2 linked regions of the Homo sapiens genome follow. The protein of the gene in region 2 purifies or fractionates together with the protein of the main gene of each other region. This does not show direct contact. Each region holds a gene or a part of one and is shown on either strand. Other genes may lie near its edges.

Region 1 (5,217 bases), on a different chromosome or scaffold from region 2:
CCCCAGTGGTACCTTAGAGCTAGCCTATCCTTTTTCTATGCAAGGGTGGTAGACTTAACCAGTGTGCTGGATTCACTGAGTTTCCTAGAATTTCCAGTAAATTACCAGTCCCAGGGTGTAGACCAGGCACCACTCTGTGGCAGTGTTTGGGAACTACACTTTCACCAATAGCTTGGTGTCAGAAGAAAGTGTGTTGTCACTCCTTACCACTGAAGGCGGAAGGGCAACTCACCCCTTTTTCTCTCCTTCCTTCTTCTTTTCCTCCTTAACGTGGCTTCTTTGAATGGGGAGATACTGAGTTGGCAGTTCTCCTTAGGAGGCCAGCCCGAGCTCCTGTTATGCAATCTAGTGGCATGTAAGCAGGATTATCCTGCTTATCCCAGCATAATATTATACTTTGGCATTATTAGGGGCTTCTGACAAACTTACCCAGATCAATTTTTTTTGAGGCGGGGGTGGAAACAGGGTCTTGCTTTGTTGCTCAGGCTGGAGTGCAGTGGTGCCATCATGGCTCACTGCAACCTCATCTTTCTGGGCTCAAGCAATCCCCTGACCTCAGTCTCCTGCCTCAGCCTCCTGAGTAGCTGGGACTATAGGCGCGTGCCACCATGCCTGGCTAATTTATTTTTTGTAGAGATGGGGGTTGCCCAGGCTTGCCAGACCCGATTTTATCTCTGTCTGAATGTGATAGCTTCCCTAATCCTAAATGTTTCTCCACATCTCCTGACAATGTTAAAGAAACTGAAGTTCATTTGCCCATCCATACTACCGGGAAGGCATGCTGCCCTTTGAATGGGAGGGTATTCCTTGTCTTTTGACTAGGATTCTTCTGCACACATCCTTTCATGTCTATCAGGAAACATGTGCTCTCTCCATCCTCCACCCTTCCTTTCCCCTCAGTGTACTCTTTTGAGCCCTTGGGTCCACCCTTCTTCCCTATCCTTGCCTGAACCTTTACTGTCTAGCTCAGTGCAATACTGTGCTTGCTTTTTTTTCCTCTTTTTTTCTCTTTCTGCTACAGAACATCCTTTCTGGGCTGTGGTTGGTAACTTTTTATAATTTCAGGAGAGAGACTGTTTTCTTTTCTGGCAAATTGCTGAGGCTGTGTTGATAAGTGAACGCATACATAGTTCTGTACATAACTGTAGTATTAACTGTCTAACTTCTCTTGCCTTCTGAACAAGCATGGTATTGGCACTTCATGCTGTTTGTTTTTTGGCTTGGGTATAGACTTAAAATGCCCCAATCCTTCTCTTGCCCCCAGTAATACCTCAACTACTGGTGGTTGTATAAAAGGCACTGGACTCTGAAGATAGAGACCTTGTCTTTATGGAGTATCTTTATGGAGTACTTAGTAGGTGCTTCATACATGATCACTGAACAAATGAGTGAGTGAAATCAAGAGAGCAAGGACAATTGGCTGAAGGGTTTCAAGTAGTGGGAATGAGGCTTTGCATGGTGAACAACACAGATCAAACTGGATGGCTTTGCATACTACATAAAACCTGGAGGGCTTTGCATAGCATGTAAAGAAACTATGGAATCCTGTAAGCAGCAGGGAGCCATTTAATTTATATGTTCTCTAGAGGTATAATTCATATATGTACAAAAAAGTGTACAGATCTTAAGTGTACAGCCTGATGGGTTTTTACTTATGTAAATTAACTGTGTAGTTGCTGCTCAGATCCAGAGACTATTTCCAGAACCCCAGCTTTTGTCTTGATTCACAACGTTTGGATACCAAATCCCAGAGGTCGTGTGGTTGGTCTGAAGTGTAACTAGGACTGGAATTATTACAGCTACTCCTGAGCTTAGCAAATCTTTATACTTGAGTAAAAAACACTAATTCAGACCATTTAACTGCATGACAAAAACAATAGTTATTATTATGGTTGACATTTATTAATCAGCATGCCTTGGCACTTCATATGCATTATTTCATTTTACCTGCTTCACAGGATTTTGTTCCTGTCTCTGTTTTACAGATGCTGAAGATTAGACATGTAAAGTGATTTGCCTTAGGTCCCACAGCTAGGGAATAGCAGAGTTAGAATTAAACCCACGACACTTCATCACGGGGACTGATTACTTATTGGTGATCTGTTGCCTCAAATATCTGGTACCCAAGTTTAACAAAAATGTTGCCTTTTTGGTGAGAGGTGATGCCTGTATTTGTTACCTGCACACAGTGAATGCTCTTAGGGATATTCTGACCTATGGATTCTTAGAATTTTGAGAGGGAAAGAGGTTTTTGATTCTATGATAGGCAGTTCCCAGAGTGATGTTTCGTTGGAGGAGGATTGTTTCAATGTGGATGGCTCTTTACAATTTACGTGTAGCCAGTAGATGATGGTCTCTGTAGACAAAGTATGAAGATAGGACACAGCAAAGATTGGGTGTGAACCTAAATATCCAAAAATCCCAACAATGAATTTGTCTTAAAAATTAATATGAGTGGAAATAAATGCATGTAGCAGTATGGCAAAATTCTTGTAATACTAAGATTGTGTTTCAAGAGTTAAGACATCCAAAGAAATGTCCATAGCGAGTAGAGGTAAAACAGTTTATTATACTGGACTTCAAAGTTGCAACAATCTTTTATATAACAATCAAACCAACAATCTTTTGTGCATGTTAATATCTTAATCTCACAACGCCAAGAACTGTCACATTTAAAGAATTCTAGCTATTGTGCATGGCTTGGCATTTGTAAAAAATGTATTTAACATTTGTTTATTATATTTTAGGCCAAATCAGTAGGGACAGTGTAGCACTTTTAGGCATCAGCTGGGAGTAGTCAGTGAAATTCAGGTTTTACAAGATATAAAAGCATGGCATATGGGGAAACATGTTTCAAGAAATGAATCTTAAAAAGTACAGCGCATGCTTTATCCAATTTGCTTGTGAAAGACTGCTGATTCCTGTTGTTTAAAATAGTGGGTGTAGAGAATATTGTTGCCAGTAAAATTTATTTACTTTTTGAAGTGGCATGGGTGCCAAAAAGTAAGTTCATGATTGTTTTGATACCTGCTTTTTTTTTTTTTTAAGGCTAGTTAAGTGAATTGATACCTGTTTATTTTTAAATGGTGATGGAGTGGTGGAGGAGATGGCTTCCTACTAAAAGTTACTGCTGTTGGTGAACATTTCTTTTACAGACTTTGTTCAATACATCATGCATTGAAGTGAAACATCAAAAAACAAATAGGATTATAGATATGGAATTCTGTGATTAAAGTTAAACATTTTAATTTTAATTTAAAAAAAATTTTTTTAAGAGACAGGGTGTTATTCTGTCTTCCAGGCTGGAGCGCAGTGTGGCATGATCATACCTCACTGTAACCTCGAACTCCTGGGCTCAAGCAGTTCTTCTGTCTCAGCCTCCGGAGTAACTAGGACTACAGGTGTACACCACCACATCTGGCTAAGTCTTAAATTTTTCGTGGAGATGCGGTCTCACCTTGTTGCCCAGGCTAGTCTGGAACTCCTGGGCTCAAGTAATTTTCACAAAGTGTTAGGATTACAGGCATGAGCCACCATGCCTGGCTTTAAAGTTATTCTTAAGACTTAAATAAAATGTGGAAAGTGTCCTTCAAAAAAAATATGTAAAGTCATGGTATCAGGCAGATTAATATATCTCCTCCCAAAACCAGGGGATTCTTTTCTGTCCTCTTCAAGAGTGCTTGTTTCTGAGTAGCTCTCTGGTGTTTGCATAGGTCGCCACGAATGTTGGGTCCCAAGAGCCAGGAACCCTTGCCTGAAGAAGGCTAAATACTCTTGATGCTGGTTCCTAGCATTAAGCTGTCTCCTTCCAAATCATTCCTTCAGATTTTGTAATGAGCCAGTGGGAAAATGGGCTTTGAGGAAGTCAGTCCAAAGTAGATCAAAGGAGATACTCAGAACAAATGGAGGATGATGTTGGTGTCCTGGTTAGTGCCCTTCTGTAAGAAGAGGGAAATGCACTCTCTCAGATTATTGTTGTTATCTTTTTTAAACCTTTTTCTTTTTTGGAGACAGGGTCTCATCCTGTCACCAAGGCTAGAGTGCAGAGTGGTATGATCATGGCTCACTGCAGCCTTGACCTTCTGGGCTCAGGTGATCCTTTCACCTCAGCCTCCTGAGTAGCTGATTTTTTAAAACCCTTTTAAATAAAACTGAAATGTAGGCTGAGATTCTTCCCTTCTTACTTGGATACTTTAACTGTCCCCCCCCTTTTTTTTATGGTAATGACTTCGGTAGTTGGGAGGGTTTGATCAGAGAAGAGAGGAATAGAATTTAAGATAAAAAAACAACAAAAGATGTCAGTGAAAGAGTAAGTTTGAGGTTCCTACTAATGAAAAAATTTCAAAATGATATTTTCTTGTAGTACATAAGGCAGTTGAAAGGGGAATAAGACAAAGTGTGAGAAAAGAAAGGTATAAGATGAAATGTTCCAGGCCTCTTTGTGTTGTCTCCATTTTTTCCAGATACTTGACTTCTTAGGACTGATGATTATAATCAGGTTGCTAATTCAAATAGGTCTGAATTATAACTTACTGTGTTTTCTAATTTTTCTAGAGTTTGAGATCTAGATTCTTAACCTTAAATAATTATGAAAAAAGTTGTAGATCTTTTACAGTCTTGCATATTTCAGATATGAAAATTTAGAGATACCTAGTACCTTTTCTTCACGTGAAGGTGCTCATAAGAACATTTGGTGGGGAATTGTCATAGAGGGTAAACCCTAGTACAGTGAAAATGTTTTGATTAGTTCTGGATAAGTGGAATTTGTTAAGCAAAGTTACATTGGTACATTGGTAGGCAGGTAATCATAAATTTTATTTTATTTTTTATTCTATTTATTTTATTTATTTTTATTTTTGAGACAGGGTCTTGTCCTGTCTCCCAGGCTGGAGTACAGTGGCACAATCATGGTTCATTGCAGCCCCAACCACCTGGGCTCAAGTGATCCTCCCACATCAGCCTCCCAAGTAACAGAGACCACAGGTACACACCACGTCGGCTAATTTTTTAATTTTTTAATTTTTTTTTAAGAGATAAGAGTCTTGCTGTGTTGCCCAGGCTGGTCTCAAACTCCTGGCCTCAAGTGATCCTTCTCCCTCGGCCTCCCAGAGCATAGGATTACAGGTGTGAGCTACCATGCCTGGCCATGAATTTTAAAATAAAGTTTTTTCTTTTCTTGCAGTCCTATTTTGTAACGGATTATGATCCAACCATTGA
Region 2 (5,217 bases):
TTCATACCAGAATAATGTGAATGCCAGAAGGCTGATTTTCACAATTTAGTGCTATAACTGACAGCATTTGAAATACATGAAGAAAATAATCGAGCCCGTGATGTTACTCAGCCTTCCTACCAGAAAAGAGAGTAAAGCATCCCCACAGGAGTGTCTGTTCTCCTCTTCCAGCCACAGTCACAAGTGTGCTAGCACCTTACCTGGTGAAACATGGGAAGAGGAAAAACACATGAATGCCTGTTGGAGTTATTTATAAGAAACCCAAGCAGAATTTATAAAATATAAATAGAAGAACTCATCACCTAAACTCATGGCCACACTACATTACACTAGCAATAATTATCTTTATAACTGTTGTCAACTGTCTTTTCAAGATGAGACAACTTAGCATCAATCCATCTGGTCATCTTCTCTGTTTGAGTAGTTCATGTCTAATAAGAAGGAGAAATTCTCATAACTGTACAACAAGGTATATGCTGAAAACTGATTACCCTAATAATATTGGCTTCAATATTCTAGACTATAAACGTTTTTCTTCCATCATAATATTTTCCTAATACTTTGTATTTCCATGGCTCTTGAGTTGTTTTTTAGTGCTTTCCACATCCATCTTCCCTCACGTGACCCTCATGACGGCTCTGTGAGGTAGCCAGGGCAGGCATCAGTACCCCACTTTGCAGATGACCCTGAGACTTGGGAAAGTGACTCAGCTAGGGGTCACATGGCTATTAAGAATCGAAAGAGGGACTAGAAACTATCCTAATCCAACACTCTTTCCTCCATACTAATGGATGGGAATTGCTTCTATCAATTTGTGCATTAGCAATCCACATCCTTCTCAAGTTCAGGCAACTGAGTCAATTAAAAAGGTGACTGGAAAGGAATGGCTCTACTTTTACTGCCTCAGTATAAAAGTCTCTTAAGTTGTGGCGTCAGAAAAATTAACTTCTTCCCACTCCAGTCTCTAAACCTGAGCATGGCCCTATAATGCCTTTAAGAAACTGGGGATAGAAATGGACACTGAAGTGTAAAATGGAAGGGAGACGGAAGGAGGAGCCATCATCCCTCAGAGAGCCACATAGAAGGCACTTCAGACAATGTCCTCGGCAGGGTGGTGGAATGCACGTGTGCCCAGGGTGGAGAACTGGTGCCAGTTCCGCAGGAAGCCCCTATTGTACTGGCCTGTGTCCACGATGAGCCCGCAGAGGAGCCGGCGCCCAGTCTTCTGTCGGAGGGCCTGCTGGACTTCCCGCTCAGTCACATTGTAGCTGATGTTGATCAGCTGGATCAGGAAGATGTAGGCCATGCCTGCTGTGATGATCACAGAGTACCACACGCAGGTGAAGGACAGAGCCGAGCTAGGAGAGGGAAAAAGGCTGTCAGGGCTGCCGTTTTTGTCAAATTCAGAAAACTGTCATCATTCTCACGTTTTACACATTTTTTTACTTATTACTAAAGACTTTGGCATCTTCCCCAACCCTCCGAACTGGAAGATACTCAGAATGCCAATAACCTGCTTAAGTAGGAGAATGTGTGTGTTTATTCTATAATTACTGGTGCCTATTTTCTAGTATATTACACTAGAATAGCAGGGACTGTTTTTTGCATTTTGTACCCTCCACACACCCAGCACGCTGCCTGACATAACAGCGTTCAACACCTGTTTGTTAAATAAACAAGTAATTCGTAAATTACATCTAACTCATGAGAAAACAAAGGCACCAAGGGACTGCTATAAATGTCTTCTAGGAAGCTGCAGGTGGATGCCGAGGAACAGTGCTAAAGTTACTAATCTCCATTCTTTCCAGTCCAATGCTGAGGAATGAAAAGACGATGGACGACTCCCAACCCCAGCAGCCCTGTGCTTACCTGGATGTAGGAACACCGAGACATTCCAAATTCACCCTCCTAAAGCCCAACACAATCACACAAGGTAGGGAAGCTCCTCTCAGGCTCACTAATGAGACAGGCTGCCAGTTAGCCTCTGCCATTTGATGATTTTCCAACATTCGCAAATTAAGAGTTAGTTAGAAATAAGTTCATTCAGAATCTTCATTTGTAAAAGCTGAAGGGACCTCAAAGACTATTAAATCCAAGGACCTAACCAAAAAGATGAGGTGCTGTGAATCGCCTGCACAGAGCAGGGTGAGAAGCAATGGCAGGACTGTATTCCTCGGTTCCCTCGCCTCCGCACCGAGAGTGCACAGACATGCTGTGCTTCAGGACGGGCCTCACCTGCAGCGTTAGCAGAGAATTTCATTCACATGCTGGAGATACTCTCCACACAGTGAGGAAGGAAACTTAATCTGAGGAAGACCAATCTATTCTAATAATGCCCACAGGTGTCTGGTTCTAGGATGACAATGGGGAGATCTGTCCACAGGCTAATAAAAACAAATGCCACAAAGGGATACTTTGTAAAGAAAGCAAGGATTGTTCTGAAAATGAAGAGTGAGAATAAAGAAAAGGGCCAAACCACAGATACCCCAGAGCACTTATGTCAGAGAGGATGATGAAGGGAAGGGAATAAAGAGCATGGGCAGAGGGGGGCCCCAGCATTCAGGGAGGGGGCGCTGAGGCCGAAGCGGAAGAATCCCAAATTTTGCCATGGCCTGGAAATCTTCACAATCTATAAAGGGGCCTAAGGAAATTTTGACCTACATATCACAGTAATCATCAGTGGTGATTAAAAAAAGAAAGAAAGTAGAACAGGAAAAACCAAGAGAGGTTAGAAAGAAAAGCAAGGTTATAGAGATGTCGAGCACATCTCAAAAGGGTCGGAAGCAGTAAATTAAGATTGGACTAAAAAACATCAGAAAGCAGCAGTAAAGTGAGAAGGTTTCTGATCGTTATGACAAAATAGGCACATATGTGCCCTGGGGCTGCTAGTTTTTGTTTATTGTTTCTGTTTCACTGTTGCGACTTTTGAGCCTATGAGTGGTCATTTGACTCTGGAAGTCCCTGATTAGGCCTGGTCCTGTTTGTAGAGAACTAGTTCTTCACTTTTTAAAGGTCAACAATCCTTTTAACAGCACCCTTGAAAAACACACATCACCAATGCACAATTTTGCTGGCAATTCCAGGGATACCCAGCATTTCCATAGCCTGGCCTATGTTTTGATTGAGAACTCCTAACCAAGTAGTAATAGTCCCTGTCAATGGCAACACCCATTACTTCCCAGGGGGCCTCCATACTGTGGTACCCACTGCTCACCTGTAATTTGCATAAACTCCAGGACAATAGAAAAGAGCTGTGAAGACACTTCTGTCTCTACAAATGGTGTCCAAGGTCAGTGTGATCCCATACACCGAGGTGAGCAAGAAGATCAAAAGGGCAAGTATAAATGCTTGATGATTTGATTCTCCAACGCAGCTATTTATCCTCAAAACAGCATAGAGAAATAAAAAAGCAAACACATTTTTAAGAGTTCTTGATATAACTTACATAATAAACATGAAAGCTTTATTTTTTTTGAGACGGAGTCTTGCTCTGTAGTTCAGGCTAAAGTGCAATGGCGCGATCTTGGCTCACTGCAACCTCTGCCTCCCGGGTCCCGGTTAAGCAATTCTCCTGCCTCAGCCTCTCAAGTAGCTGGGATTACAGGCACATGCCACCATGCCCAGCTAATTTGTGTATTTTGAGTAGAGATGGGGTTTCACCATGTTGGCCAGGCTGGTCTTGAACTCCTGACCTCATGATCCACCCACCTCAGCCTCCCAAAGTGTTGGGATTACAGGCATGAGCCACTGCGCCCAGCCAAGACAAGGTTTTAAATAGGGAAAATGTAAATTCCAGTTATTAAGAAGTTCTCTTATTTTTCAATTTTAGGGAATTAAAAACTTGCACCCTGAGGAATGCAGTCTTATATTCTCTACTCTTCGCAAAGTGGAATCATATCGTCAGTTTAAGGACAAGACTAAGTATAAAAAGCAGAACCTGGCTAACAAATCTTCCTAAATATCAATATTACCCAGCTATGGAGATCTAACATTGTCCTCACCATGTTAAGGAAAGGGAGATAAATAGAATTATGAAAACTTAAAAATGCTAAATCAGAAGTATTACATAGTATGGGAAAATTCATGTTAAATATATGAAGAGTAATATAAAGATCCAAAGAGGTTAGAAACATAGCGTAGGGGGAAGAACAACTTGATAACATGCAGGCTCTTTGGCAGGTAAAAACAGTTCTGTGTCATGGCCATTTGTGGGGCAGAATGTAGAGGGAGTGCCTTCTACCCACTGCATGCCAGGATGCTCCAGTGGGCACATATCTGCTGTTAGGTGAGCCTTCTGCAAACCAGCATTTGTAAATGGAACACACACGCACACACACACACACACACACACACACACACACGAATAAGTGAAGACACAGAAGTAGAACATCTAAAAATGAAAACACCTGTTTACTTCTAAAGACAAGGACCCAGAAAAGAGCTGCCCTGCACTTGAGCCATGCACTTGAGGCCCACGCCAATGCCTCTCAGCCTTTTCTGCACCCTCACCCTCTCCTGCATCCCCTTCTGAGGAGGAGGTACGCTACAGGACCAGAATCCTAGACACGAAAAGCATTAATTCATTGATCACGACTGCCTGAAGAGCAATAAACTGCAAACATGCTACTTACAGCATTCATATCTGAATTAATTATAGTCCCTTTAGTTTAGATGTATTTAGTGAAGCTGCAACATTATCTTTAAACATTGCACTTCATATTTTACGGAGCCTTATGTACCTTCGTTTGTTACTGGCCAACTGGCAGGTACAAAAGCCCATTTCTCTGCAAATAATCAAATAGAGAGTTTATCTGGTGGGACCTCGATTCAATAATGTTAAGTGGAAATCATCGGTAGCATCAAAAACGATTAAGTATGTATGGCAAGGGGACAAAAGAGTCACCTAAAAATAGGGGTACACTTTCTTGAGCTTTATGTTTAAAAAGGAATAGCACAGGGAAATATGCTTATACTGTTTCTGATCAATTCTTTTTTTAAAAAATCATTCAACTGTAGATATTTCTCTATTAGAAAGGAAAAGATAAATGAGGAGTCATTCAAAAGAAAATTGAGAAAAAAAAAACCCCACAAGTTTTCTGTTATTCTCCTTCAGGAAATGACTGAAGGAACTAAATTTGTGAAACTCGAAAAACTGATGACTAAGTGGGAACATCACAACAACCCACAAATATCTACAAGGTGTAAAGCTGGGAAGGA

The links.
Region 1: the proteins of ZDHHC23 (region 2) and RRAS2 purify together in Homo sapiens (affinity purification with mass spectrometry; one large-scale study listed by BioGRID and IntAct). This does not show direct contact.

The regions. Positions count from the first base shown.
Region 1 is NC_000011.10:14,295,821-14,301,037, reverse strand, and holds part of RRAS2 (ras-related protein R-Ras2), read left to right. Parts: intron 1-4,964; exon of another isoform or gene 4,965-4,983; intron 4,984-5,182; coding exon 5,183-5,217. UniProt on the Homo sapiens protein: GTP-binding protein with GTPase activity, involved in the regulation of MAPK signaling pathway and thereby controlling multiple cellular processes. Regulates craniofacial development.
Region 2 is NC_000003.12:113,954,504-113,959,720, reverse strand, and holds part of ZDHHC23 (palmitoyltransferase ZDHHC23), read right to left. Parts: intron 3,383-5,217; coding exon 3,215-3,382; intron 1,359-3,214; coding exon 1,091-1,358; 3' UTR 201-1,090; coding exon of another isoform or gene 178-200; 3' UTR 1-177. UniProt on the Homo sapiens protein: Palmitoyltransferase that could catalyze the addition of palmitate onto various protein substrates and be involved in a variety of cellular processes.